Homo sapiens: one gene and its partner. The protein of the gene in region 1 binds, or shares a complex with, the protein of each later gene. Each region holds a gene or a part of one and is shown on either strand. Other genes may lie near its edges. A codon is read from its position in the direction of its gene.

The links.
Region 2: the proteins of PLXNC1 (region 1) and SEMA7A are in contact, whole or in part, in a crystal structure (PDB 3NVQ), measured with the Homo sapiens proteins. Residues at the interface, in NP_005752.1 of Homo sapiens: Arg131 (codon at 9,376), Thr151 (codon at 9,436), Glu152 (codon at 9,439), Val153 (codon at 9,442), Asn195 (codon at 9,568), Pro196 (codon at 9,571), Ala197 (codon at 9,574), Ala198 (codon at 9,577), Ser199 (codon at 9,580), Asp200 (codon at 9,583), His201 (codon at 9,586), Thr203 (codon at 9,592), Ala206 (codon at 9,601), Lys208 (codon at 9,607), Arg213 (codon at 9,622), Ser214 (codon at 9,625), Leu215 (codon at 9,628), Ala216 (codon at 9,631), Thr217 (codon at 9,634), Gln218 (codon at 9,637), Glu219 (codon at 9,640), Leu220 (codon at 9,643), Arg222 (codon at 9,649), Lys224 (codon at 9,655), Glu272 (codon at 9,799), Ala350 (codon at 10,033), Ser352 (codon at 10,039), His353 (codon at 10,042); in NP_003603.1 of Homo sapiens: Gln194, Tyr196, Asn197, Gly198, Lys199, Arg202, Arg204, Tyr213, Ser215, Asp216, Thr217, Gln270, Gly271, Gly272, Glu273, Ser274, Ser275, Leu276, Val278, Ser279, Lys280, Pro372, Thr375, Glu376, Phe378, Gln379, Asp382, Arg383.

The regions. Positions count from the first base shown.
Region 1 is NC_000012.12:94,139,987-94,154,804, forward strand, and holds the start of PLXNC1 (plexin-C1 precursor), read left to right. Parts: upstream 1-8,590; 5' UTR 8,591-8,985; coding exon 8,986-10,047; intron 10,048-14,818.
Region 2 is NC_000015.10:74,426,913-74,442,703, forward strand, and holds the start of SEMA7A (semaphorin-7A isoform 1 preproprotein), read right to left. Parts: upstream 7,047-15,791; 5' UTR 7,007-7,046; coding exon 6,829-7,006; intron 6,793-6,828; exon of another isoform or gene 6,678-6,792; intron 1-6,677. UniProt on the Homo sapiens protein: Plays an important role in integrin-mediated signaling and functions both in regulating cell migration and immune responses.

The DNA of each region.
Region 1 (14,818 bases):
GGCGAGTGCGGCAACCACCGTCACTCTCCAAAGGCTTCCGTGCCCCCTGGGGCAGCTGAGCGGGGTAATGCCCTCCGTGATGGAGAGCGCGTGTCCCACAGCCGGGCCAAGACGGTGCCCAACCGCAGATAGCCCCACTCTGAGGATGACAGCAGCGAGGAGGAGCACTCGCACGACAGCATGGTCCGCGTTGGAACCAATTACCAGGCCATAATTCCGGAGTGCAAGCCTGAGAGCCTCGCACGCTACAGCAACAAGAAGCTGAAGGGGGTGCTGGTGTGGTCACCCAACCACTGTGTGTCAGATGCCAAACTTGACAAGTATATTGTGATGGCCACGGAGAAGCATGGCTACAACATTGAGCAGACGCTGGGCATGCTCTGGAATAAGCACCATGTGGAGAAGTCGCTGGCTGACCTGGCCAACTTCACCCCATTCCCTGAGGAGTGGACAGTAGAGGACAAGGTGCTGTTGGAACAGGCCTTTGGCTTCCACGACAAGTGTGGATCCAACAGACGCTGCCCGACAAGTTGATTTCCAGCCTGGTGAAATATCACTACTCTTGGAAGAAAACCCACAGCCGAACTAGCATGACGGACAGACAGGCCCGGCGGCTGAGGGGCTGCAAGGACAAAGAAGACAGTGATGAGTTCGAAGAGAGTCGAGGAGGCCTGAGTGAAGGAGAGCCCGATGCTGGACACCCGAAGAGAGAGGTACAGAGCATAAAGCAGAGGAACAGCAGCCTGCGCCAAGCCCTGGAGGGCGCCATTGATCCACTCCGCGCTCTGGAGGCCAACACTAAGTTCAACTCCTGCTGGACCACAGAGGAGCAGCTTTTGGCTGCCTAAGCCATCCGGAGGTATGGCAGACTTTGGGGCTATTGCAGAGGTGATTGGGAACAAGACTCTGACCCAGGTGAAGACCTTCTTTGTGAGCTATTGGCACTGCTTCAATCTGGAGGAGGTGCTGCAGGAATGGGAGGCTGAGCAGGATGGGGCCCGTGGAGCCACAGTCCCCGTGGAGGAGGCTAGGAGAGGGGCTCCCTTGCTAGCCCCAGCCCAAGAAGAAGATCATGAGGTCCAGATTACATCGATCTCCATGTCTGTGTCCCGATCGGTGCCCCCCTGCACCACCCCCGTTCCACCTCCCACCTCCCTGCCCTAGGTGCCCCCTGCTGCTGAGGCCACCTTTGCCCACGGCTCCCACTCTGCTCTGACAGCCACCCACAGTGCAGCAGGGCCGCTTCCTCCAGCCCTGGTTGGCCCCCAACCAGCGCCCACCACCTCTCATCCTCCCCGCTCTGGCTGCCTGTCCTGGCCCTCCGCCCCTACCCACCCTGATTGGAGCCCCCAGTGCCCTCACTCTGAATCCTGAGGTCCTCCACCAACCACAGGCTCCAGGACCTCTTTGCTGGCCATCCCCAGGCATCTCTGGTGTCACTGAGGACGGAAGGGGCTAGGGCTCTTGCCAGGTCTTTCCAAGACCCAGAGCTGCCGACAGCCCAGCCTGGACCTGTGGGTTCTGCATGTGTTCCTGGCAGCTGGGCCTGTCTCTTGGGGCCATGGCCCGGGCTCAGGGGCCTTTGAGCTGGACTGAGGGCACTTTCGCTTCCTTGCTGGGACTGGAATGGCTGCCTCCTAGTTGGCTGGGGCTTGGTCTCTGGGCCCTGCCCTTTGTGTGTCGGGGGTAGGGACCTTAGCGTGGGGGTGGGACAGGACAGTTGGGTGTGCTGGCTGTTCTCATTCCTCTTCCCTTCTTTTAGCAATCAGTCTTGGGTGAGGTGGGAAGGGAGGCTGCAGGGGGAGGTGGCAGAGGGGCCTTACAGCAGCAGAGGCTGGAAGGGAAGTTCTGTCTTCAGGGGCCAGCTGGGAAACACTAAGGAGCTGAGGGTGCCCACCAGGCCCACCTTCCAGAAGCTTGGAGAAATGTGGGTTGGGAACTTATGCAGACATGGATTTACTTTTCAACATGTTTTAAAAGTTAAAAAAGAAAAACCTTCTAAAAAAAAAAGTAGCATCTTTAGAGGGTTCCTGTCTCTACTACATAGGTTTCCTTGAGTATAAAGGAACCAAAAACATCCAAGTTATCTCTTCATTATTAGTAGGGGGCGACATAGGGTGAGGTCTGGAGATGAGGAAGTATAGCAATCTCTTAATAATCCTGCTTTGGTAATAATGAATATCAATGGAATTTCTCAACTTTATTGAAGGGACAGCTGGAGTTCAGACTTAAGGAGAAATGTCTTAAAAGGAAAAAGCGGCATGCTTGGTTTTGTATCTTGTTTGAAAATATATTTCAAACGTTCAGCAGAATTTTAGAGATCATAACCACCCTCTGCCCCCACCACCTTCTGAACCCTTAGTCCCCAGTAGTTCTGATTTACTTTTAAGATTCTTTTAGTTTTATGTTTTAACTGAAAAAAAAAAAAATCCTGCCCAGCCAGGTTTCCATCTGTCTGTATCACCGGGTTGAATTTAGTGTAGGAAAGCCTGTGCAAAGGGAATAAAAATGTAGCTTTTTTTCCATTGCCAGATTCAGGGGAACCAACCATTTGGAAACAAAGGAGTTCCATTTTGACTAGCAGCCTTTCTGCTTTCCATCAGTGGACAAAGTGAATGTACAGGTTTAAACATCATTTGGGGTCACCTCTAGATCCATGTTTGGAGGTAGATTGGTTTGTTAGTTATGATTCTGGCAGGAAACAGGTGACACATGCAAACAGATACATTAATTGAGGGACCATGGCCGAGCCATGCCAGGATGAAGGGAGACCAGCAGAGGCTAGCCACAGCGACAACCATGGAATCCCACAGGCCTGAGGAGGAGGGTGAGGGAGTGGTTACTGGGTCCACGAAAGGCTGTGGCTACAGTGTAGCTGTGAGAGAGGACAGCCCACAGGAGCTGTGGCCTTGTAGAGGGACACAGCCATGGCCAATGCATAGATCAGCAGAGAGGGAGCTGGGAGAATAAATATTCAAACTTCACCCTAGCTGTCCACCCCTAGATCTCTGGCTGGGGCTTCCCATTGGCTGAATCCAACGAGAAGCCAAAAGGCAAGGGTGATGTCCATAAATGTCAAACTTCTGGGTCTCAAGCAAAAGGGGGAGCAGTGGGGAAATGGTCTGCAGGGAGAAGAAGAGACTATTCAACACAGACGGGGAAGAAGAACTAAATAGGAAGGACTAGGGAAGGGGTGAAAGAGATTGCGGTGATGGTTTCAAGGGTGTAGACTTATCTCCAAGCACAACATGTTGTATATAATAAATAGGTATGGATTTTTGTATGACAGTCATACTTCAATGAAGGCTTTGTAAAAAAAAAAAAAATAGGGGCAGGAGAGCGAGGCAAACACTCGGTCTTCCATGAACTTTGCATTTGGGATTCTGTGCGTGGGGATGAGTGCCTGAGAGATGCTGTTTGGACTGCCATATTCCCAGGGCTTCCCCAGGATGGGTGATGAGTGGGGCTGCCCCCACCCTGGGGCCATACGCCAAACTGCCCGACCGCAAGAGCCCATGCTCAGAGCTGATATTGGTTGCTTCCTCCCGACCTTGGTGGGGCTATTTTCTAGGGAGTGGCAAGGACATAAGAATGAGAAGCCACACCAGCTTGGTGGAGAGCACTAGAGGGCTCACTGCGAAGTCCAGCAACTTTATTGTCAGCTCAGAGCATCTCCCCACCAGAATCTCAAGGAAGCGGAAGTACAAGTGGCTGTGAAGTTATCTGCGTGTTTATCTTATCTTCTGCTATTCATTTCAAGAGTTGGAGTTATTATTAATAAGAAGGCCTGGTTTCTGGCAGCTCTTCTCTTAGAATGGGTTTATGCCAAGCTGCCAGTTATCAGAGGATTCAGAGCCTAGGATTATGCTGACAGCGAGTCTCAGAGCTGTGATGGGAGGGCAAAGACACGGGAAACAACGTTGTATTAAAGAGGAATCAGCGTTTTGTGTCTAGTCCTTGATGCCCTTTTGGCTTCCTATTTCCGAAGAACAGCAAGGAAAATACAAGGAGAGACAGACTGGAATCCTGTGAATATCAGAGAAAAGCTTGATTTTCAAGAGACTGCTCAAGTTACAGAGATTCCCCAAATCTGAAGAAGTAATTAACTGATGAGTTCGCATACTTCATGCAGGGTGAACTCCAGCCGGTCTAGAAAAACACTGTGATGGTTGATGATTTACCATACTTTGCTTTCAACCAGTAATTGTCTCAGATTCTTAACCACTGATGGTTTTGGTGAATGTTTTGGAGAAAAGGCTCGAGAGAAACTTCATGACACTAAACATACTCTCTGAGAAGTGTGGTGCTAGAATGCTAAGGTGATGTCCTAGACTTCGCAGTCTCTTAAACATATCTGACATTATATTATGCTATGGCATGCTATGCTATGCTATGCTATGCTATGCTATGCTATGCTATGCTATGCTATGCTATGCTATGCTATGCTATGCTATGTTATGTCTTTTTAGGCAATAGCTCATCCCTCCCTAAAGCAGAGTGAATGCTCTTATTTAGCTTAAAGACAGTCATTGGACTTTGAGTAAAGAGTCATTTTCTTGTACGTTCCACTCCACCCTCCAGTGTACATTTGCACTCTGCTGGCGAATGACCATGAGCTATTAAATCATGACAAAGAAAAAGATGACAACTGTAATGTTGGGAGTGACCCCCAAGTCCCACCTACTGAAGGAACACCACAAGCCTTCCTCACTTTAAACCATGGCATGGGGGCACTATCACCAAGCATAAGAATGCCCAGCAATCGTCTGGGGCCATGTTGGGTGGGCAGAGAGGATGAGGCACTGAGTTCCTTCAGCCACGTCTTAACTGTGCCATGTCAGAGAGACTTTTCATGTTGATTGAACTGTGTCCAACTCATCTCTCAGCACCAATGCGAACTTATTAAACAGCTCTTCCTCTAATCTTTTTTCAACCATCTACTCATCAGCAGACTAGAAAGAAGACTGGCTCATTTCTTTTTCCTGTCAGCCACCAAAAGGGCCTGGGAGCTTTGATAAGGGCCTCGATGTGGAAGACCACATAGATATCAGCAAAACTGTGGAGGAAGAAGTGGTCTGCTTAAAACCTAAGAGGACAATACAGGTACTATTCCACCCACTGGGTGGTATTTCCAAATTCTGCACAGGGGGTTGTAGCTATGTAGATGAGGCTTAGAGAGAATTCACTGACCACCAGAACAAATATTCTCAGTTGCTTTCAATCTCTGCCAGCCAAGTCATGCTACAGACCACTGTCAGATGAAAAAAAAAAAAAAAAAGAAAGAAAATCAGAAAGAAAACTGAAGCACCAATGATAGCCATCTTGTGACTGTGACCAATTGCCTACTGAACAGTTCTTAATGTCCTGGGCCCCAGCAGGAAACCACTGAATCTATAAAGTCCTGTCCACCAGAAATGAGTCTGATTGTGGATGGCCTGGTTAACCCAGATTGCCTTCGGTGCCTGAGGGACTTGATATTTTCTCATTATGAAGACTTTCCCATCTAGTGAACGCTGCAAATAAAACTGCTCAGAATCGGTCTGAACTGCCTGTTTCCGTGGTAGCAGGCCTCTGTCTGGAGGATAAATCTGCACCATCTTCTTTTTTTTTTTTTTTTTTTTGGGTTTCAGCCAGTTGTGTTACAAGGAGTTCCGAAATGTGCTATAAGTGACACCCAACAAGATGGGCTCGGCCAGTTGGAGAGGGAAGCTTTGTCACCAAAGGGACTTGCACCCCTGGGCCAGACGGTGGTGTCCAAGAGAAAGTGATCAAAGAGATACAGAACCCGCATGCCTAAATATTTATTTCAGTTGTTCGTATTTCCCACACTTTTCAAATGTGAACTTGTGTCCTGAAGGTGGAGCTTTAGTACACAAGAAAATTGGGAAGGGGCAAACATGTTTGTACAAAATGGGGGTAGAATCAGCAAAGAATGCATTTATATGCTTCCTCGTCGCCTACGTTTTTCATGCCAAAAAGTTAGCACAGATTCTGATTTCTTTCACCGTAGGAGTCTGCATACAATTAAATGGGAGGCAAAAGAAGCCCACTCTTAAGAGTGGGGCTTATGGTCCCAGTAGAATGGCAGGGAACTGTAGCCATCAAAGCCATTTATACTTCTTGTGGGTAGTATTTTTAAGATGTTGTTTCTTTTTCAAAATGAAGCAGCAATGAACTGAGTAGTGATCAAAATGCCGCACCACAGAGTATGTTTAATCCAAATAGCTCCCAAGATGGTCTGTGACTGATTGTACCAACTCTACGGGACTTAGAGAAATGACTTGGTTACCAGTGAAGTAAAACTATCTCTGGAATGGAATTGAACTGTTGCTTCTCAGCACATAGCGACACTGCCACCGCTGGTTCACGGAGCCAGTGAAGGTCACTGAGTTCTGCATCAGTCACAGGGAAAACTGTCAAAACACCAGCGCATAAATCCCCTACTATGCTGTGGAGGGGGTCTCTGAGCTTCGGATGAGGTTTTTAAAATATTGATCTTCCCACTTCCAGAGGTGCAAAAATTCTGAAAGCATTCCAGGAGGGCAGGGAGTGGGGGAGCAAGGCCAGATATTTTGGAGCAGGTGAAACATCTGACTTGTCTTGCCTGAGATGTCCCGATTAACACCAACTGGGTACTTTAGGCCTTTCCCCTTCTTCCTCCCCTCTCCTTATGGACACTCCAACACCATCATCACAGCACAAAGGGCAACCTCATATCTCGTGGGAAGGCATTTTCTGCCTCCTGCCAGGCAAAGATAATGTTATCCAATTGCAAATGAAAGGCTTATGAATGAAAAGATGACCACTCTGACTTTAGTGTATGAGAGCCACTGCTGAAATGATAGGATCCTTGAACTTCACATCTAGAGCAGAAACTCACACTTCTCTTCTTCTCCCTCCACCTCACCCTTCTTTCCTTAAGCCTTCCAGAACTCCTGCCATATCCCTCAGCACTGGGGAGAACTTGAAGCACTGTTGGAGAAGTTTGAAACCTGCAACCTTCGGCAGGACTCAGCATGGGACAAAAGCCACCTCATTCCTTTCCCTTCCCAAAACAGCATCTCGAGCTGGGGAACTTGGAGGGAAGGAAGAAAGGGGATAGCAGCCAATTGCCCTCCCTGGGGCCTGGGGTCTGGAAATAGCCTGGGAAGGAACAGAGATCATTTCCCAACGATCCATAGAGGTCCTCAGCACCCTCCACTCCTATGCACCCCCTGGCTCATCTGCCAGACTGTAAGGGTGCTGATGGTGCCCGCAGCTGCCCCGGGAAGCTGGGAGGCATTTGTGCATCCTCTGGGAAGCCCCATTCCGAGAAATCATGAACCTATTCCCCAGTGGGCAATGATTCCCTGTGCTTCAGAAATTCTTGGCGGCTGTGGGGGCAACCCAGCTGTTATTCACCCTCTGGGTGAGGTGGTGAGACCTCAGGGGGTCCAAAGGATAAAAGTGGGTAATGATGAGACAGATGGAGAGCCTCGAGGGAAATACGGGGACTTGGGTCTAATAGTAGAAAGCAGGGCGGGGGCTGGTTGGTGCATTTAACTTGAGGAACTTTTCAGTCTCACTACAGAGAATGATCTCTGGGGGATTATGGCAATGGCCACAGGTGGCACTTAACTAGAGCCAGGTATGTAAGAGGCCCTGGGGCTAGATATGGATTCGAATCTCGGCTCTGATATCTACCAGCAGTAGAATGCCAGCACGTTCCACAACCTTTCTATAACCATTCTCCTGGACTACTAAGTAGGGATGACAATAACAGTCACTAATTAATAGGGCTGTTATGAGAATTATGAGTCTTAACCCATGTGGTGAGTTCACAAGCGCACCCGGCACGTAGTAAGTGCTCAGTAAATGTTAGCCCCGCTCATTAGGTTAGATGGTGAGCAGAACTTTCCAAGTGCTAGGCTTGAGAGCCTGGGACTCTGTTGCCAAGGGAGATTAGAGAACCTTTGCAAATATGGGCGCTCCGGCCCTGGGGATTGTCCAGAACGAGAGTGTGGCGCCTGCCTTTCTGCCACCTCACTCATCCGACCCGGGGAAACCCACACCCTGTCACAGGGGCGCCTTGGTCCCCGGAGTCTCCGGCTCGGCCATGTCTCCCGCGCGCCTCCCCGGGGCCTCCCTCTCGCCGCTCCACACCTGTCAGCCGCTCTCGCAGCAGCCCTGTGGCCCGAGCCCGGGGCCTCAGCTGCAACCCCTTCGCACCCTGGATCCTCGCTCCGCGCGCCTGGCGTATCCCCGACCCGGCTGCTGTCGTAAACAAAACCGGGCGTTGGAGCAGCACCGCGGGCGGACGGGCGCGGGAGCCCGCTCCGTGCGCCGTTAGCGCGCCCCGGGAGCCCCAGGCGAGCCAAGGGGGCGATGGTGGCGGCCGCGGCGGCCGCGGCGGGCGGCTGAGCTTTGTTATGAATAGATGAAAGAGGCCACCTACACAGTAACCCAAATTACGAGACCTCCCTCCTCCCTATCTCACCGAATCAAGAGGGGAGGGGAGATGGGCGTGGAGGGAGGGCGGGCGGGCGGGCAGGAGGCGGAGGGCGGAGGAGGAAGAGAGGATGAGGAAGGGGGCCAGTTGCATCCCACTTTCACAATGGGAAAGTGAAACGCACAAGCGCACCCAACCTCTCCAGCCCTCCCCGCCCGCCTCGCTCCTCTCCGCCCGTCCCCTCCCTTCCCCTCCGCGCCTCCCCGCGAGCGCCAGCGCTGCACACAGGAACTCTCCGGCGAAGGAGGGCGAGGAGGAAACGGTGCCGGAGCGCGCAGGGCTTGCTGCCGCCACCGCCGCTGCACAGGCTGCCGGAGCGAGCCTGCCGCGCGCCGCCCTCCCCGCTCTCCTTCCTGGGCGAGCTGCGGGGATGGGGCGGCCGCGGGAGCCCGAGCGCGCGCAGGAACCGCCGCCGCCGCCGCCCGCGTCTCCGTTGCCGCGCGCCTGAGCCGCCGTCGCCGCCGCGCGCCCTGCCCGGGGGCGGCCCCCCCAGCCCCATGGAGGTCTCCCGGAGGAAGGCGCCGCCGCGCCCCCCGCGCCCCGCAGCGCCACTGCCCCTGCTCGCCTATCTGCTGGCACTGGCGGCTCCCGGCCGGGGCGCGGACGAGCCCGTGTGGCGGTCGGAGCAAGCCATCGGAGCCATCGCGGCGAGCCAGGAGGACGGCGTGTTTGTGGCGAGCGGCAGCTGCCTGGACCAGCTGGACTACAGCCTGGAGCACAGCCTCTCGCGCCTGTACCGGGACCAAGCGGGCAACTGCACAGAGCCGGTCTCGCTGGCGCCCCCCGCGCGGCCCCGGCCCGGGAGCAGCTTCAGCAAGCTGCTGCTGCCCTACCGCGAGGGGGCGGCCGGCCTCGGGGGGCTGCTGCTCACCGGCTGGACCTTCGACCGGGGCGCCTGCGAGGTGCGGCCCCTGGGCAACCTGAGCCGCAACTCCCTGCGCAACGGCACCGAGGTGGTGTCGTGCCACCCGCAGGGCTCGACGGCCGGCGTGGTGTACCGCGCGGGCCGGAACAACCGCTGGTACCTGGCGGTGGCCGCCACCTACGTGCTGCCTGAGCCGGAGACGGCGAGCCGCTGCAACCCCGCGGCATCCGACCACGACACGGCCATCGCGCTCAAGGACACGGAGGGGCGCAGCCTGGCCACGCAGGAGCTGGGGCGCCTCAAGCTGTGCGAGGGCGCGGGCAGCCTGCACTTCGTGGACGCCTTTCTCTGGAACGGCAGCATCTACTTCCCCTACTACCCCTACAACTACACGAGCGGCGCTGCCACCGGCTGGCCCAGCATGGCGCGCATCGCGCAGAGCACCGAGGTGCTGTTCCAGGGCCAGGCATCCCTCGACTGCGGCCACGGCCACCCCGACGGCCGCCGCCTGCTCCTCTCCTCCAGCCTAGTGGAGGCCCTGGACGTCTGGGCGGGAGTGTTCAGCGCGGCCGCTGGAGAGGGCCAGGAGCGGCGCTCCCCCACCACCACGGCGCTCTGCCTCTTCAGAATGAGTGAGATCCAGGCGCGCGCCAAGAGGGTCAGCTGGGACTTCAAGACGGCCGAGAGCCACTGCGTAAGTCCTGCCCCCGGGGCGCCGCGGAGAGCGCTGCTGCCGGGGAGCCGCCGCCGCCGCCGAGGCAGAACGAGCTGGGGGCGAGCGGCGGGGCGGGGGTACAGCCGGGTGACATTTACCAGGTCTCAGGTTCACACCGCGGGCGGCCGTCCGAAGGCTCCTCTCGGACGGTCCCCGAGACCTGGAGCACGGCCTGAGGTCCCCAAAGGGAGAGTGTAAAAAGGGGGGCGGGGAGGGTTGGAGTTAGACTCAAAACTCTAGTGGCTGCATCCCATTGCCATCCTTCCCTGTCCAAACGGGGACGCTTGTTTGGGGCTGAGTCTCCTCGCGCAGCCCCTCTTTCCCATTCGCTTCTCCAGACTTCTCTGTGCCCCTTCCGTGTAGTCCCAGCAGGCGTGTGGGTCTGACCCTCTTGGTCAACAGTTAGCAACACAGTGCCCTCGGCAGAGAAGCCATTGAACCTAAAGGGCTCCCTGCCACACCCCAGCCTTTGTGGCCCCCTGTCTCCGCCCCCCACCGGCAACGCAAGTGCTGTGGTCTGAAGAGTTGCTAGCCCGCTCAGCGTGGAGAAATGCCAGCCTGCAACAGAGGCTTGCGCTGGAACCGAACCCCTGGCGTGAGCCGGTGCGAGGGGGCGGTGCCGTGGCTCTGCTCAGGGTGCGCTGTGGTCGCCAGCCGCCGGGAGAGGCTGGGCGGGAGGTGGCCTTGTGGTAAAAGCCTCATCCTAGAGGGGAGTGCAAGGGAAAGTGTTGGGGGTGCTACAGGCAGTTTCTGGGCTCCAGATTGCGAGACTAGATGGCGGGACTCAGAGTCACCACCCTGGGGCTGAACCAGGCAAGCGATACAGGTTTCCCCTGGGCTCCCAGGGCAGCCACAGCTTTTATCTTGAGATTGGCATTTCTTTGACTGGAAAATAAAGAGGCAGTTCAAGAGGGTCCAGTTGATGGGGATTATGGAGCCATTGTGCACTTCTCCGGAGGCCGTTTCCCTTCCAAGGCGGCTGGCACATCAACTCCACATATGGCTCCTGAGAGGGGAGCCTGCTGGGAGCCTCCTTTATAACTGGACAAAAATCAAAGCGCAGAAATTAACGGCTACAGGTGTTGCCATTGTTTTGGTACAAAATGAATCAGAGAGGAAGGGGAGAAGTCACTGCTTGGAAAATGTGTTGATACAGGGGCACGTTGGCTCCCAGGTATATTAATATGTGTATAGAAAGACAGCTTCCCCCACCCCCTTCTTTCTCTGCAAAGCACATCTTACCAAATATTAGCCCTATGAGCCAGGGAGAAAAAAACCAGGAGGTCTTTTGCAAGGCTTCTTAGAACGGTCACTTGCTGCTGCTTCTTTGCCTGTCAAGCTGTGTGCTGGGACACACACATTAAGGCCTTCATTTTGTTACTGGTATAATTTTTAAAAATATGTAAAAACACATATTTGCCTCCTAAATGACTTGCTGTTGCCGTACACATATAATGTAATATTTGATTCCTGTCTTTATTAGATCTTTATAATCTAACGGTTTAAGTTTGGTAAAATTATCGTTTCCTACTTCTCTGTTGAAAGACTTGAAAGTACCCCCGAAATATTACTTTGTGTCAAGCTTTAGACACACTTAGTCTCTGGGGTTAATGACAAGCCAGCTCAGAGGCCCACAGCAGGTAATGAGGGTGAAAGTCCAAGCTTTGCCATCTGACAGCTGTGTCGATGTGTGGAGCCAAAACATTTCTCTTGACTGCGTCTCTCTACCTATTGGGTCCTGGAAGACTCAGTTCCCTTCCAAACCCAGCCAGCATCTTGAATGCACTCAAAATCCACGTTTTGGCTCAATCAGGTGTTCCTGCTTGTGCCGGGATGGGGAGGGGCAGTGGCAGAGGAAGTCGCGGAGCTTCTGCGAGAGAGCTGCCCCTTGGAAATCAAGCAAAGGATAAACACATGCTGCCAAAAATCTGGAACTGGAAAAATAAATAATTAAAATGGGTCCCTCCACAGCATTTCTTGCTGCTATTTATCAAGAACTCCCAGTGTGCTCAGAGCTGTGTGTTCTGAAAGACAGGGTCTGTACCCCCTGAGCTTGTCAGCCAAGTTAAATAATATACTCTGGTTCAAACAATAGCATGTCATGGCTGCACAGGTGGGAGCTTGGAGCTTTGCATTTTTTTTTCATTTAAGTAAATTCCTTGCTGCTAGTATGCATTGAAAAGCCTTAATGGAATTGAATTTCAAGAGGAGTTTGAATGAAAAAGGGTGGTAGTTTTGATGAAAAAGCTGACAATTTTCTAACCTATTAAATAGGTAGAGAAGATACTCAATTCAACAAATATTTGTTTGATGCCTGCTAGTGTAAGCAATGCTCTGTGCTGGGTGCCACTGATTTTGCCACTGAAAGGACGATAGCAGATTGCAACCTTGTGTAATGGGGTCATGGGATCAGTGTGCCCCTGGCTGTCACTCAGAAGAATGATGTCATTTGATTGCATTTGTTCTGCATTTTATTTTCAGGTCTTGAATGTGTTTTTGAAAAGGCATGCTGAATTATAGGTGCCTAAAACAGGAGCAGGACTTGAAACACTCTAGAGGGAACCTCAATAGATTCCAACAGCAATTCCTTTAGAGCAGACACAGTAATTTTAACAGTAATCCACAGGCTGCAAGGCACAAGCGGCTGGATTTGCTTGCCTTCTTTCTCCCTCTCCTCCTAGCTGGCTCTTATTTTCCGTCTTCAATCAGCCATAGGTAGAAAAGTGACAGGACTGACTGGGTTGTATTTTCCCACTTTCTGGTTCTCTTATCTCTTGTCACTGATCCTCCTCTCCTTCAGCTTCTGCTAAGCAGTGATTTACGAGATGCTTGTGTAATGAGTGTGTACTCAGCTGTTTACACACTGGACCATTACTTTTTCTGCCTTGCCACCAACTTTGAATCCACTTTCATAACTGTAGCAGGTTAACTGCAGCTCTCAAATGTGCTAAGGCAACCGATTTCTGTAGACCCTCTCTCTAATAATCTTCTGTGATATTTGTACAGCACTTCCACATGTATTATTTCTTTTGAGCCCCGCATCAAGTCTGAGGTTGATTCTATGGGGATGATTTCATTTTCCAGATGAGGAGGCTAAAGATCCGTTAAGCAGCTTGCTCAAGATAGTTAAGTGCCAAAGCCCTCCACCTTAAATCCAGGTCTTCCAATGTCTACATCTCTACTCTTCCCACCACCCCAGGGTTTCTCGAACTTTCCCTTGAAGGTCCCCTAATTAAATTGGCAGCAAACAACCTCCCCTAGGATGTGGGGTTGAGGCTAGAGGGTAACCTCAGAAGGCAGTACATGCCTCTAATCTTGGCTTGTGTTTTAGAACTTCATGTGGTCTCTTTCCTTTTTTTCATTCTTTTTTATAACACACCTGTGCTTGGATTAGTATAAAAATGAATGTTTTTAATTATGCACAAGTTAATCAATTTGACTTCCTACCTTTCTGAACTCTCACTACCCCTGGCACACCAACGTGATACACAGAAAGTGTTTGTGTTCGAGTTTGTGGAGTCTGATTGCTCCAGACTTGTTTGGCCACCATTGTTGGGTTCTGGGGTCACTCGTGGTTTAAACATGGCAGCCACCCCTCGGTAGACATTGAGGGTAGTACGTTTTCCTGCAGTATTGGTCCACAGGACTCTAGATCATTCTAGTTTGTTCTCTAGTTCATTCTACCCTTTGTAGGGGGACATACCGCCTTCTTCCACGCCTACATAATTCTAAAGCCTGACATAATTTAACTGTCATGCAGACAACCACAGAATGCTCACATGCTGCCCAACAGAGAGCAACCCAAGGAACATGTGTGGAGAAGTGACATCCCAGTTCCACTTGGCGATGCAGCCTATTGACCTCAAAATCCGCAGTCTTCTTGTGATGTTTATTTCTCTTCCAGCTTCTGTTATGATTTTGTCAAGCCATTTTGCAGTCTATAGACTAGATGGTGATTTTACCCTCATATACACATATTATATGCAAAAATGGATTCAAAAAGGACAATTGCCATGACAGCACCCACTTAGAAAGAGGGGAAAGCAATCATAGCTACTATCTACTGAATAGTTATTATGGCCAGGTTTTGTGTGAAGCAATTTACATGCCTTATTTTCTGTTGATTCTCATTCACCATATGGGGCAAGGACTGTAGTTATCATGATGATTAGAGATGAGAAAATTAAGGCCCAGAGAGCTTCTGTTAGGTTCCATAGCTGGAAAATAGCAGAGGATTTAGAACCTGGGTGGTCCAGCTCTACGACCTGAGCTTTTAGCCACCTTACAAGTCTATATTAAGGAGCCCTACCCTATTACTATTAATAATCATGATGGTGATGATAGTAAAGACATCCAAAGCACACGGCATTTTCTATGGGTCAAGTAGTGCTTATTCTATACACATTAACTCATGAATCCAGAGAATATTGCTGTCAAGGAAATGGGATTCCCCACTTATAAATAAAGAAACCAAAGCACGAAGGGTTAAATAATTACTACATGCAATAATGTGTACATGTCCACTGCCATGGACAGTCTGTCAGCATGGACATTAGGTCCTGATGTCAACCCTAACCTGTATGGAGCAAGCTAAGCCCTTGCAACTGCTATGCTAAGACCAGCTTTTTGTGGACACAGGCATAGGATAGCAGAGAATCCTTAGTTATGAGCTGAGTTTCTAGGTTTGCATTGGTGACCACCTGAAGTTCTGACTCTGGCAGGATTGTAGTTTCTTAACTGTGAACTTCTA
Region 2 (15,791 bases), on another chromosome or scaffold:
ACTGCCCATCCAAGCAGGGCCCAAAACCTCAGGGCAGGGCAGTCAAGGCCCACCTCATCTCTGCACAGCTCTGCCATGGCTCATTTCCATCTCTGCACTTTGCTCCTGTTCTCCCCTCCCTGGATTGACCTTCCTCCTTTTCTCTGTGCACATGGATCTTACCTGTCCTTGAAAATGTAGCTAAATCCCTTGGATCCAGGAAGTATTCCAGACTGCTCCAGCCCTCACTGCCCGTACCTTCGACCTTGTACCACAAACCATCTGGCACCACCATCTTCGCTCAGATCATGCTGTCTGATGGGATTTCATCTGGCCTATGGGGCCCTGAAGGTGAGGACCAGGCTTCCTCTTGCTCCAAGTCTTCCATTCCCAGGGAGCAGCTCAGACAGTGGAGAGAAGCAAGACTGGGGCAGGCCAAACTCCCATGCCAGAGGGACAGGTATCTTAGAACAGATTCCTGGGCCACCAATGGAGTGCAGAAGTCATCACAGTGACCTTCCTTCCTCGACAGGCTGGGCCAGAGCTCCTGCCTCAGCCTCCCAAGTAGCTGGGATTACAGGCGTGTGCCACCACACCCAGCTAATTTTTTTGTATTTTTAGTAAAGACGGGGTTTCACCATGTTGGCCAGGCTGGTCTCGAACTCCTGACCTCAACTGATCTGCCTACCTTGGCCTCCCAAAGTGCTGGGATTACAGGCGTGAGACTCTGTACAAACAACAATATGAATAGCTGTCTATGCTGCACTCTGCCCCCACCCTATGCTCCTGCCCCTAGCTCTAGCCTGGCTCCTCCTCCTCCCCCAGGAAGCCTTCCTTGATTGCACCATCCCACACTGACCTTTCCTGCTCTCACCTCCTGTCACAGTCCTAGGCTACATCTGCAGGTCATTCCTGACCTCCCCAGGGGTCCGCCCTACTTCACAGGCAGAAGACTCACCTCTCCAGGAATGTGGGGGCTCCCCAAGGGCAAACCCAGGGCTTCTCTTCCTGCCTCTCCCCCAGAGGAGCCGAACACAGACCTAGGCTGGCTGCCCTCCATGATGAGGGGTCACCCAGGGGTGCTGGCACAGAGCCCAAGCCTCTGGCTGGAAGCATGGGGTGCAGAAGGCATGGCAGGATCAGCATAATCCCAGGCTGTCATGACAGTTAAAACCTGATTAGCCCGAGCCGGGACACAGATCAACCTGTCCTTGGGACCTGAGGCCCAACCCACCTGAGGAAAGACCAGAAGAGGTATATGGAGCTGGTCCAAATCCAAGGTCCTGAAGAGAGGACACTCACAGCTGGTGTGGCTCCTGGGAACAGACAGCACTGGGGCGGGAAGAGTCTGGGCCCAACTGGGCTAGCAGAGGAGGAAAGGCACTGAAGGGGCCCCCAGCCTGGGACAGAGTATGATGGCAGACAGAAAGCTGGAAACAGGCTGAGAGCTGGGGCAGAAGCAGGCTCAGACGACTCAGCCCCGGTCCCAGCTCTGCCTCTTTGGGTGATCTCGGGCCAGTCCCTGTCATCTCTGAGCCTCAGTTTCCCCATCTGTGGAATGTTTGGCTGGCCCAGCTAATCTCTGACATTTCTTTTCTGACATCCTAAGCTCGCGCTGTCAGGCTGTGTGGGTTGGGGTCATCCAAGAAGGTTCCTCAGAGGAACTGAGAAAGAACCAGCAGCCTCCTTTCTGGGCAGAAAGGAGGAGGAGGGTGAGTGGGGTGCAGAGAGGAGGCGGAGCCAGGGAGCAGTGAGGGAAGAACTGTGGGAGTCTAGGAGGCAGTGGGGCCAGGCCACCATGCAGGGCCTGGGGAAGGCGGCAGCTGTGTGCCATGTGTTCTGGATGGGGTGCAGCATAGGGACAGAGGTCCTCCGGGAGGCTGGGCACAGATCTGGAGAGATGGCAAGGCCAGGGCCAGGGAGAATAAAGGGCTTGGAGAGCCACCCCATACCATTCGGGGCAGAGAGGGGACAGTCCCTCAAGGCCTGGCTGGCTAGGGAAGGGGGAACTCTGTCCTCTGAGGAGGCAGGGCCCAACAAGGTGCCGTGGCCCTCCATCCCCCTGCTTTCTTTCTGGCCTGCCTGGTTCCCTGAGGACAGGACAGCTGGCCATACACCTGGTGGCTGGCCCTCCCTGCAAGGGTACGGAACCCTGGCTCTTCTGAAGGCAGGACAGGTTAAGGGCCCCTTCCTCCCCCAACCATGGCGAAGGAAGGCTCCTGGGGCAGCCACGCTGGGCCAAAAAAGGAAATCAAGAGAAGTGGAAACTTTTCAGTCCAGAGCTGCCGACCAAAGCAGGGGAAGTGCAGTCAGTCTCTTGTGACAGAGCCGTGTGAAGCTGGGGGTGGACAGGCTATCAGCTAGTGGCCCATCTACTCCAGCTACTGCCCCCTGAGGGCTGCCAGACCTGCCCCCTGGGCTGAGCTTCACATCCCACCTTGCTTGGCCCTCCTCAAAAAACAGAGCCCAGCTTTCCCTGCTTCCCCCAGGGCGCCACCCTCAGCCCAGATAGTGACCTATCCATGCCACCCCCACCCTGCCACCTCCATGCTCCTTCCATCTCTGCAGAGGAAGAGCAGGAGAAGACAGAGCTGAGGGACAGACCTTCTCACCTGGAGACTGTCCTGCGGTCAGGAGTCAATGGGGAAAGCCATGGTCTCCCTGGACCCAGAGCCAGCCTCCCACCAGGGAACTGTGACGGGGCTATGGCCTTGCCAGCACTCGAGAGGCCTTCCCTGCCTGCCACGGCCCTTCTCCAGTGGGTGCGTCCTTCCTCCTCACTGCTGCGCCAGTCATAGGATGACAGGTATCCCCTCACCTATGCCCATCTGGACAAGTTTCAAACTTTTCGGGAGCCCCCAGGCCCAGGCTGACTCAACGCCTCTTCACATGGGGGCCCCTCACATGGCTTCTCTCCTCTCTGTGGTCCTAGCTGTAAGTTCTTGGGTTTAAAATCCTACTAAGTGGGGTGCTTCCTCCTGTTCCTTCCCTCCCCCAGCTGGCTCCTCCTCCTGCCATTTCAGCTTGCTCCCTCTTCCAGGAAGCCCTCCCTGATTGGGAAAATTGGGTTAGGCATCTCCTCAGTGCCCATAACTGCTCTCTGTTACACATTCTGTTGTACCTGCAGGTTTATCTGCCCATCTACATCTACACTGAGAAGTCTACAAGGGCACGGAATCATCTTGTTCCTCATCACCAGATCCCCAAGCTCATCCCCAAGACCAGCACAAGGGTGGCCCCGGCAAATGTTTGCTGAATGAATATGTCCACCCTTGAGGGCACATGCTGATGATCCATTTCCTCCAAATGATCCTCAGCCTTTGGCCCACGAGAGAAAAAGATAGGAAAGAACGCGAACTTAAGGGTTTCCCCTGACTTCCCAGGTTTCAATTTCTCCTCCAGATTTCTCGAAATCTAAGATTTAAACAGGCCACCACAGACTCTGCCCAGCCCCTCCCATCCCAGAGAGAGAGAAATCCTAAGACATTAAATCTCAGAAAAGGATGAGCCCCCTCCCCTACCCTCTTTGGGCATTTGGGGAAACTGGGGTTCAGTAAAAGGCAAAGACTTGCCCAGTCACAGAGCAAATTAGGTCACAGCCTGAACCAGGCTCCCGACCTCCCAGCTCTCTCCCCTATACCATGGTCATCATTGGACCTGTGCCAGCGTCCATTCCACCGGACCTGCTCTCAGAATCTTCACTGTCCAGGACAGAGGGGTCACAGAGCTTGGTAGGAAGCTCCTGGTGACCTCACCAAGCATCTCTCTTGGCTTAGGAAACTCCCCCTCTCCTCCGGGGAATTGCCCCCCCACCATGAGACTCTGTGGAGGGAGTTCACCTTGAAGGTGATGAACACATCTAAGTCCCCAAGGGGGCAAGGATTTCCACTGGAAATGCTGATGCTTGGGAAGCCCCAGATGTGACCTCATCCCCTGGAGGAGGTAACAACAACCTCCTGCCCTGGGGAGCAGCCCCAGAATGGCTCCCCAGCAGCCACCAAGTCAACAATAACATCCCGTTGTTTCACTGGACAAAAGCGAGGGAGGGCAGAACCAGCCGGGCAGGTTGAGACTGGGGATATGGGTTCTGTTTCCCCATGGACAGGCTGGTTCACCTCTGACCTTGGGGTTCCAAGCCTTCTTTAGCTCCTCCAACCACTGATAAAATGGAAGAGGGGTGCACAGCTTACAAACGCATGCCAACCTCCTGCTAAGCCCCAGCCCTCACCTGCAATCTACTCCCTTACAGTTCCTGCTTACAGGAAGATCAGGACCACACATGCACATCCTTGACTGGCCCATGTGTCAGTGACAGCCCTTGGGGGACAATCCCTACAGCCTTTCTTGCTCTGGCAGGCTCTAAGGGTCAAAGACAAGTGTGGAGCTCAAGGACACCCAGCAGGTACATGATGGCCCATCTCTCTCCCTGGCCTGAGCTACGCTGTGCCAGACTTTCATCAAGCTGCAGAGGCAGCAATCTCCCTGATCAGTGCAGGCTGGGCCCCTCTCAGAGTTCCCTGCTTTAATCTTTCTCTAGAACTTGGGGATCCAAGCAGCAGAAAATAAAGAACTTTCCATACCTATTCCAGTCCCCACAGCTGTCCTGACTCAAAACTAAAACCCCCATCTATGCCTCATAGAGAAATGGCTCCAGAACCACCACCATCCCTGATTTTGTCATTCCTGGATACCACCATACTCCCACCCACCACTGGTAGACAGAGCTCTAGGCTTCCAGAAAGACCCCCTCTTACCCTGTTCCTGGGTTTGTCCTACCCAAGCCCATTCCTGTCCGATTGCCATGTGTCACCCCACAGGAGACAGGAGGCAGCTGTCAGTCGGGCACACCATCACCAGCTGGTGGCCCTGGGGGTGGGGGGCAGGTGAATGGCAGGGCCTGTCTGGCCAGTGGGGCACCTGGCACTGGTGAAGGAGACCACAGACTGTCGTTGGACAAGACTGGTGAACGGTTGGCAGACCCCAGCCAGCGGGGCTCAACAGTGCATTACTAAGCAGAGGGCACAGCCAGTGTGGCTACAGCAGTGAACTGCGGGCGGGGGGGTAGGCCATGGAGCTGTGCTGGGAGCTTCGAAAAGTGGGTAAGAGGACTGAAAGCAACTTTAAATAGCCTCAGGGTGGGAACTAAGTGCCCAGGATGGGATGTATGCATTAAGTGCTAAGAAGTGGGTGTGCATTAAGTGGGGTGGGGGTGGGGGGTCATGGGAAGACTTTGGGACAGGCAAACAGAGTCAAAATGCAAGGGGTTTGATGGAGGGAAAGATTCCAGAACACTCAGATGTGGCCATTTGTCCCCTCCAGAGTGCCCACACGCTATGATGTCCAAGACAGCCAAGGAGACTGAGGGAAGGCAAAGCTGCTGGGAGGGCAAAGGAAGCTTGGGCTGGAGCTGGGATGGCAGAGGGGTGTGCAGGCCTCCTCCATGTACAGGCGGCCGGAGCTCTAGCAGCACTGCTCGGCTTCCTCCAGGAGCACCTCAGGCTGGGTAGCCGAGCTGGTCCCCAGAGCACCTCATTCATGGTCCCTGAACCACCTAAATCCTTCTCCCCTCCCTAACCCAGAACCTGGACTGGTCCTGTGCCAGATCAGAGCCCCTGCCTGCACCTGGGCTCCCACACTGCTCAGTGACCTTGGGCAAGTCACATTCCCTCAGCTACTGCGGCAGTTCGGGCCACTCGTTTTGTGTATGGTTTTTTTTCCCCTCTGCTAATAATACCTGCCCCAGATAATGCTCAGACTCCCGCAATCCCTGCAAACTGCCAAAGGCATCAAAAGGCTCCCGGTGGGGCCAGACCCGACCAGTTCCCCCAGCCCCCACTGCGAGTCCCCCACCATCACGACAGGGGGGCCGCAGACACGCCAAATTTGGGGACAGAGCCGAATCGGACTGGGGGCGGGGAGGCATTTGTGTGCAATGCAGGGGAGGGGAGATCAGTTCCTCGCGGCAGAAAGCCTCAAACCCCCGCCTAACCGGCTTTCTGTCCCATAGTACAGGGTCTAAACTGAGGTGCCCTGGGGGAGACTCCAGTCCCCCAGGTTCTTATTATCTACCCTGGCCTAAAGGCTGCACCCCCGCCCTAGATCCACCGCCTGGGGGTCCCAACGGCCGTGCCCCACCCAACGGGCACTGCCCCCCAACGCTGGAGCCGATTTCTGGTGACAACTGCCACGTGCGGGCAAGGGGGGAGCGGCCGGTCCCGGCATTGCTGAGGCAGCGCCCTGGTACCCCAAGCCGCCGCACCGCACCATGTCCCGCCGCTCGCTGCAGGATGCCCACCCCCTTGCCTGGCCCGAGCTCCGGGCCGGGGCGGGGGCGGGGGCAGGCGGCGGGGTCTTTGTTCCCGCTGCCGAAGCGCGGCGGCGGCGGCAAGGGGTCCGCGCCCCCCTTGCCGGCCCAGCCTGCGCCCCGCGCGCCAGCAGAGCCCGCAGCTCAAAAGGAGGGTACCCGGGTTGGGGTCCCAGGCGGGGAAAGGTCCTCCGCCGAAGCCCCCGAGCCAGAGGACCCAGAGTGGCTCGGGGCCGAGAGAGGGGCCCGCCCCCTCCCCTGGCGCCCGGGCGTTGCGGCTCCTGGCTGCCAGGGACTTGGTGCGACTTAGCCGGGGCTCCGGCCCCCGCCGCTCGCTCGCCGCAGCGTTACAGCCGGCTCTGGTGTGCCAGCGTGTACACTCACACACACTCACCCAAACCCACACGCTCCACGCGGGGACAGCGCGGGGACAGCCCGGGACCCGCAGAGCTGCGCGCACGCACTCCCTCCGGGTGCAGCACACTCCGCACCCGCCCCGCGCAGCGTCTGATCCCGCGCCTGACCGGCCGCGCGGCGCCGCCTACCTTTCCAGACGGCGAAGATGCGGGGTCCGCTCCTTAGGTGGCCCTGGGCGGAGGCGGCGGCCGCCCAGAGCAGCAGCAGCAGCCGCAGCCGCAGCGGAAGCCCCAACCGAGCCGGCGGGCCAGGGACGCGGGCGCGCGGTGCGCTGGGGGCGGCACGTCCGGGCGGAGGAGGCGTCATCCCGTGGCCCCGGGAGCGACAGCGGCAATCAGCCGAGACTGAGCCAGCGCCCGGCCGCAGGCAGACCCAAGCGCCAGGAGGCGGAGCCAGCGCTGACCCCACCCCGCCCCTCCCCCCGCCCCTCGCAGCCTTTTCTCGCCTCACTGGCTTTCCTGAGCGAGAGCGGAACTGCTGGGGGAACCTTCGCCACCCTCTCCCGGGCAACTCTACGGGGAAAGCCCAGCTGCGGACAAGCCAGACTTGTGGTCTTCTGCCAGGGGCGGCAGGCCCTATCCCCTCTCTGGGCCTCAGTTCCACTCCCCGCACCCCGTAAAAAGATTGGCGTAGAAGTCGTGGAGGACCTCTCTCCAAGGGCGCAGAGGAGTCCAACACCCAACAACCTTGCTATGGCCAGCTAAGTGGTTCGCACCCTGAGGACTATGGTCCTCGGAGGATGCGTTCGCCTAAGTGGACACGGCTCCCTGCTGAGCCTACCAGCAGGCACAACGATGATATGTGGGGAGCACTCAGGGACCCGCTGTTGCTTTGCCTGGGAGAACACTGGAAATTTTTCATCTTGGCCTGGCTCCTTCCCCTCCCTCTCCTTTCTCCTCCCTTTCCCAGCCAGCAGCCTTCTGGGCTGCCTCCCCCCAAGCCAGCTGGTGTACGCTCAGAAAATCCAAACTCATTTCCATGTGAGTGGAGGGGGATATAATTAGGAAGGCCCCTTCCCCAAGTAGAGAGGGGAGCATCCCCCGTGCCCCACTCACTGTGGGGGAGGGAGGGTCAAAGCAGCTTAAGGGGATCTCTGCCCGCAAAGTGCCTAGGGCTCAGCTATCTCAGGCAACCTGACCATTCAGTGGGGACTCCCTTGGGGGGTCCAGGCCCAGACCCTCTGCAGTTACCTGAGCAGTCCAGCCAGCTCTGCCATCAGCTCCTCCTCTCAGAACTACGTGCCTGCCCTTTGTAAAAGGGTCTCCTCTCTCTAGACCAGACAGGGCCCAGACCTACCACTTCCACTTGTGCCCCAGGGAACCATGAATGGAAAATCCACCCAGCTCAGTAAGTACTTATCTAGTGTTTACTGGATGTCTAGCTGCACTGAGAGGAGACAGGCCGAGGAAGGAGTAGAGGTGAACATCCAACCTTCAGAACTCACAGACCTAGACACGATTCACGCACTGCAGACACCAGCAAAGGCGGTGGGCTGGCTGCCCTCTGCCCTCTGCCCTGCTCCATGGGGCCAGGACCATTTGGTTGTTGTTTTTACCTCCTGGAACCAGGAAAGTTTTGCTACCAAGAAGTTTGGCTTTACCATTCTACATTTTGCTTCCAGTTGTCCCCTCCTTCTTCCCTCAGAGTCCTGAGGCACCCCAGCAGGCCAGGAAGGTAAACTCAAGGTACCTCCAGAGACAGTGCAGAGTGAGGTTCCTGGCCCACTGGGTGAAGCCAACAGCCTCCTGATACACAGGGGCACACTGCCCCAGAGAGGGAGGCTGTGGACAGTCTAAGAGCTCCTCCTCAGGCCTGCACCTAAGCCTGTGGCCCTGAAGCCAGCAGTGGAGCCTGGCCCAGGCCAGCCTCTAAGATGGACATTCGGTTTCACCTGCTAGACAGGTATTGCCCTCAGTGTCTGTCCTCTCTATGCAAAGCTAGGGCAAACTAAGAAATCACCTGTCTCTGCCTTTTGGAACTAAGAATTCAAATGGATTCAAAATCAATGATAACACTGCCCATGTGCATGGCAACTCACAACACATAACCCACATTCACCTACCTCATCTCTGCCAGTCCTCCACTCTCTTCCTCTCACTGAGGGAGGGAGCGTAACTCCACTGCAGAGAAGAAAACTGAGGTACAGGGAGGGACAAGGACGGACCTGCCCGAGGTCAACCGGTAAATGGTAGAACGAAGATGGGTTTTCTGACTGCAATAACAATTGCTAACACTGTGGTTCCTATGTGCTGTGCCATCTCATAGCCTCTCCCAACTCATTCAATCTTCGCACTCCTATGAGATAGGAGCTATTAGTCACCTCCCTTTACAAATGAAGAAATCAAGGCACAGACAAGGGATGTGAAGTGCCAGGATCGCACAACTAGAGGCAGGACGGATTGAAACTCAGGTGGTTTCTCAAGGACCCACACCCTTGACTTCTCTCTGTGTGATGTACCCTGGCACTGCTGCCTCCTGTCTGTGGCTGAAGTCTGGGTCCAAACCATCCCCAGAAGGACCTAGATAGGGCCCAGGTCACCAGGTGCTGAGTAGGAGGGCAGACCAGGGAATGGGCTCAATCTCCCAATCAACAGAGTAGCAGATGGAAACTGGGGTAGATGCCAGATAATTTTTTTTCCAGACTGGGGGGTAGGGGGGAAGGAAGTAGTACTTAAGACCATCCTCCCCACAAGCCAGCCAACCTGGGGACAAAGGGCCAGGCGAGATGGCAGCCCACTCTCTCGGTTGGCTGCAGGCAGCCAGGGGAGGAGAGAACTAAGCCCATGACTTGAGGCAATAACTTTATAAAGGGAAAGGCAGCTAGACTGTGGGGCAGGCACTATGACCAGAGTTTAGGCATGGACTTTCCTGCCTCAGGCAGCATAGGAAAATCAAGTCAGAATGGTATAGGTGGTGTCAGAGGCCTGCCTGCCTCATTGGAGGCCAAGGCTGGCTCTTGAGCCTGGACCAAGAACAGGGGCACAATTCCCACTCACAGCCAGTGATGGGAAGTGGACCAGCAGAGGAAGCAACACATGTGGATGCTGACACGTCTGATGGGGAGGCACATTCTTGTCCCTCCCTTCTCCATGATTCCACATTCAGGGGAGGGAGGAAGAAATGATGCAGGGCTTCTATCGATAAGAAAAATACCTTGAGAAGGATCACTTCCTGAGCCCCATGGACAGCTGAGGCACAGCCCAATCCAAGAAGGCTCCTTTTGGAATGAAAGAAATGGATACACACAGACCTGAGATTCATGGTCTTGAAGCAGTGGCAGAAGCCCCGGGCAATCCCCCCAACATTCCAACTAAAGCCTCTCACCTTTCAGGGTCCAACTTAACTCATCCTTCCATTCTCCAGAGTTATCTGACCTCCTCCTCAGCCCTGATTCCATGGCTACACATGGCCTTCACAGGAGTGACCCACCTCAAACAAGAGGCCTGTGGGAGATAGAAGGATTCCGTGAGGAGATAACATATGCAGACGTGAGGTCACCCACACACAGTTCACTTCCTTTCACAGATACGATGATCCAAGAATCCCAATTCTTAGGATTAGAAGTAGCTCTCAGAGGGCATTCAATCCCCAACAGCCCCCTCCATGCTAGATCCCACCCCTTCTTTGAGGCCTCAGAGCTTGGTGGCCATTCAGACCTCCTGGCTACTAACAGCAGCAACAATTCCTATTGCCTACCACCATTACTACCTATTGCAGGGGGCAGAGACTTGGAACTGATGAGAACGAGGGGAGTGGGTGGGCTGGGGTCTGCAGAACCCTGTGCTGTCTATAAGGCAATTTCGACTCAGCTCCAGCCCATGGAACCATGAAGAAGTAAACCCAGTAGTGAAAGGTAGTATGATTTTCAAGAGAAGCTGAAAATTGAGGGCTGGGCACGGTGGCTCATGCCTGTAATCCCAGCACTTTGGGAGGCCAAGGCAGGTGGATCACCTGAGGTCAGGAGTTCAAGATCAGCCTGCACAATATGGTGAAACCCCATCTCTACTAAAAAATACAAAAATTAGCCGGGCATGGTAGCGAGCGCCTGTAATTCCAGCTACTTGGGAGGCTGAGGCAGGAAAATCACTTAAACCCAGGAGGCGGAGGTTGCAGTGAACCAAGATCGCACCACTGCACTCCAGCATGGGACACAAGAGTGAAACTCTGTCTCAAAAAAAAAAAAAAGAAAAGAAAAGAAAAAAGAGGCCAGGGGTGGTGGCTCACGGCTGTAATCCCAGAACTTTGGGAGACCGAGGTGGGTGGATCACAAGGTCAATGATTTCTGTCCTAATCATTCTACATGCATTTTTATCTGACAAGGTCAGGAGTTCGAGACCAGCCTGGCCAAAATGGTGAAACCCCATTTCTACTAAAAATGTAAACATTAGCCGGGCATGGTGGCACGCAACTGTAATCCCAGCTACTTGGGAGGCTGAGGCAGGAGAATCACTTGAACCTGGGAGGTGGAGGTTGCAGTGAGCTGAGATTGCGCCATTGCACTCCAGCCTGGGTGACAGGGCGAGACTCCATCAAAAAAAAGAAAAGAAAATTGACTCTTTGTTGAAACTCTCTCTTTTAAAATATTGGCAAATAATTCAAAAGTTAAGGAGGATGGATATGGGCAAATAAAAACAGGTCTGGGGCCCATATCTGGGACCCCCAACATACCATGTGCCCACTGTGACTATCTCACAGGCACAGGCACGACAGTCACTATACCTGGCCCAACTCTTGGCAGACCATGTCAGGCAAGGAGTGCCAAGAAGACACTTCTCAGGCTGCCCAGGCCATGCCTCACCCTCCCCTCAGTGCTCTGCCTGCCTCCAAACCTCAGCCAGGACATTCCCCTCAAGTGCCTGCCTCTTCCTCCTAGACCAGTTCAGAGATCACCACCTTCCATACATCAGTTCAGCCCACTGTGAATGGAGAACTTCTCAGAACTGCCACCACCTTCTTAGCCCTGAGGGTCGTGCTCCCAGCAGCATCCCATGCCTACATCTCTGCTTTCTATCCTAATCATTCTACGTGCATTTTTATCTGATCAACCCTACCTAAATTGCTAAGATCTAAGTAGGGCCAGCCAAGTTAAGTAAGACAAAGGAAAAATCCAAAGAGGAATATTCAGTCAGCAGAGAAGAGACAGATTTTTTTTCCTTCTAGCAGGGCACTCAGCTCACCTGAAAACACTACAGGTCCTGTGCCTTCCACAGACAAATCAGCAACATCCTTAGCCCCAAGCCCCAAACTTGGCCAACGTGGCACTGGGCTTGTGGTGGGAGTGCCACCTGGTGGCCACTCTGGAACAGAGCCGAGTCTTAGCAAAGACCAAGTGCATCTCTGCTCTCTGTTCTAGTCATACATTCTACATGCACTTTTCTGTGATAGACACTCCCCAGACTTTCTGGAGACAAACTTCTCCCTCCCATTCCTATGCCCCTAATCCATCTCTGAGCCTCTATTCTCACTGTCCAAAGCCTGAGGCAGGGCAGAATCTCATGGATGTCACATAGAATCCATCTAGACTAACAAAATCTCCTGACTAGACATGGCTGGGAGGCCAAAGATGAAGTCTCAGCCTGGATACTGACTCAAGCAAGGCCCTGACCCAGTCCAGGCCTCTGTTTCTTTGTGTACAAAATGAGAAAGAAGAGCTAAAACTCCATCTCTTCTCCTGGTCTATCTTCTCTCTGTATCAGAGAGAGACAAAGCTTTCTCATTCCATCTTCTGCATTTCCTTCTATAGGATGAATTAAATATGCTTTTAAATGATGTCGGCCAGGCATGGTGGCTCACGCCTATAATCCCAGCACTTTGGGAGGCCGAGGCAGGTGGATCACCTGAGGTCAGAAATTCAAGACCAGCCTGGCCAACATGGTGAAACCCCGTCCCTACTAAAAATATAAAAATTAGCTGAGGATGGTGTTGTGTGCCTGTAATCCCAGTTACTCAGGAGGCTGAGGCAGGAGAATCACCTGACCTAGGAGGTGGAGGTTACAGTGAGCCGAGAGTGCACCATTGTACTCCAGCCTGGGCAACAAGAGCAAAACTCCATCTCTAAACTAAACTAAACTAAAATAAAATAAAAATAAAGTGATGTCTATAGGAGAGAAGATGTCCCAGGACCCTCCCAGCTCTGATGTGATCCTTGGGCCTGCTGAGGCCACTTCAGTGAGGAGATACACATGCAAAAGGGTGGTTACCCACAAACAGTTCACTTTCTTTCATGAATATAATGATCCAAGAATCTCAATTCCTGGAGTTAGGAGTAGCTGTCAAAGGGGATTCAGTCCTACCTGAGAGCCACTCACAAGACTCCTTATGGTGGCCATGCAGGTTCTGCTTACATACCTCCAGTGATGATGAGCTCCCTCACAAGCCAGCGTTGCCCATCTTGTTTAGCTCTGACACAGAGCTTTCTTCCCCAGTGGAAGACTCCCAAACAGTGGTCCTAAATCTGCCCTCTGAGGCAACAAGGACATGTCTAATCTCTCTTCCTGGAATACGGCCCTTCAGTGATTTCACAGAGGTCACATCCTTCTAAATCGGCTCTTTATTCAGGGTAAATAACTCCAGTTTCAAATAGATCCCTCATGGGGCTTTCCTTGAGAGGCTCTCTAATCCTGGTTGATTTCTAAGACACGATCAGTCCGTCATTTAGCAAACTTTTACTGACCCCTCCTAGGTGCTAAACAGTCCAGATTGTGTCTCTCTCTTTCAAAGATCAGGCCTCAGATCAGAACACAACACCTAGTGTGGAGGCTGAGCAGTAAAGGGCTGAAAGACTAGCTTCCTTCCTCCTTATTCTAGCACCTCTAAAGGCACTCTTAATGGGTTGAGACAACACGTTGTTAAATCCTCTTGATCTCAGCCCAGGGTTATCCCTGGGCCAATTCTCAACCATCAGTAGTGGCTCTCTGGGATGCTCATTTGAGAAAGATTATTGAATCTGGGCCCAGGAGAAGAAATGAGACTCGATTCTGCATAAGAGCAATTAATTTTCTGGTCCCCCTTGGCCGGGCGCGGTGGCTCATGCCTGTAATCCCAGCACTTTGGGAGGCCGAGGTGGGCGGATCACGAGGTCAGGAGATCGAGACCATCCTGGCTAACACGGTGAAACCCCATCTCTACTGAAAATACAAAAAATTAGCTGGGCGTGGTGGCGGGCACCTGTAGTCCCAGCTACTCAGGAGGCTGAGGCAGGAGAATGGTGTGAACCCGGGAGGCAGAGGTTGCCGTGAGCCGAGATTGCACCACTGCACTCCAGCCTGGGTGACAGAGTGAAACTCTGTCTCAAAAAAAAAAAAAAAATTTCTGGTCCCCACTGCAGGACCTTAGACTTTCTTTGCTTCTGTCCTTGTTAGGGTTACTTCATTGTCTGGGCCCTGATGCCATCTAGAACATTCACTGGCCCAGCTCTGAGTGCCTGGCATCTCTGATACACATACTCAATATCCACTTATAGAAATTGAGGGAAAACGTCAAACAAGGCACAACTGACGCTCCAAGAAGTTAGGTCATATGTGGAAAAGCAATCTAAACCTCAATCTGACTTAGAAGCCTAAGTCCCCTCCAAGACCTGAGCTGCCACTCCAAAGGTAAGTGGTTAGGAGACCCTTCGGCCAGCCAGGCACAAGGCCCCAGGTGGGTGCACTGATGGAATCATGCTGACACAATCCCACCCAAGCCCTAGAAAGGCCACTTCCCCAGCATACAGGAAGCACTCCTCTGTACATGGGGCTAATAATATCTAGTTTTCAGAGTCGCTATGAGGATTAACTAAGATGGCACATGTGAGTGCCTAGCTCAATGCCTGGCACAGAGAGGATGCTTGATAAATAAGCACTACTGTGCTGTGTAATGTACTATTAATATTAGCTAGTTTTGCCAAGATAGAGTAGGCCAGTGCCTGGGTTGCCACGAAAGCATTTCTAGCATAGAAGTTGAATTCTATTCCCAGCGATCTCAGAGCCTATGAGAACGAGACAGGCCCAGGCCCAGAGGAACTAGGGGCACAGCTGAACTGACCTGAGCCCAGCCCAGGGCCAGAGGGGACCCCACCTGCTGGAGAGGCTGGGTAAGCAGAAAGAGGGAGGCCTGAATAAACTCCCCAACATCCTCAACAAACACCCAGGGCCAAAGTCTGTGGCAACAGCAACAAGAAGCCACCTCAGGGTAGGGCTCTGTGAGCTTGGTCTGGGGCCCAGGCCAGATGGGACTGAGGCGAGGAGCAGATCTGGGGCCCATGTGCCCAGCAAGCTGTGCCAGCCCAGCCCATACCAGCCCAGCCAAATTTGAGTTATATCAGGAGAACGGATCTGTTAGAAAACTCACCCATCTCTACATATTTGCATATTCTATTTTGGGGTCTTTTCCTTTTTTTCCCTCAGCTTCCTAGAAAAGTTCTTGTGATCACTTCCAACTTCACCTCTGCTGAACTGCAAAAACTCACACTCAATCCCATCTCTCCTCTAACTACTATCCTCTCCCTCACAAGCAAGGTCCCCTGCCCTCTCTGCATCCACTGCCCCTCACCTATTCAGTCCTCAACCCCTGCTATCTGGCTCCGGTTCCATTGGAATGTCTCCCCAAGGTCACCAAGGCACAAGTCAACAAGTCCAAGGTCAGCCCTTCTGTTACTAGGTTTGTCTGTGGCATCTGACCCCACTGAGCATGCCCTCTTTGTCCAGGTCCTTTCACTCCCTCAGCTTTGCTGACTCCTGCTCTCACCTTCCCAGAAGCAGCAGATCCTGCGCCCGTTCCATGCCTCACATCTATCAGTCACCATTTTCTATAAAGCTGAACTCCTTAGTGGGTATCCCTTTTCCTCTACCTTTCTCTGAAAAGCTTAATTGCCTTCTCACATGACACAGGCCCAGTGTTCAACTTAGAACTTCCTGATCACTACCTCAGCCCAAAGACATCCAACTGTCTTTAATTATACACATCCCCACCTGGCTGTCCTATGGCACCTCATTCCAAATTGTCACCCCAGTCCCTTATTCTTACTGCTGCACCACCATCCGCCTGCTCACATCCTGCCTGCCTCCCCACTTTCAGCCCCCAGAGCTAGTCTGTCCTTCACACCTAGCAG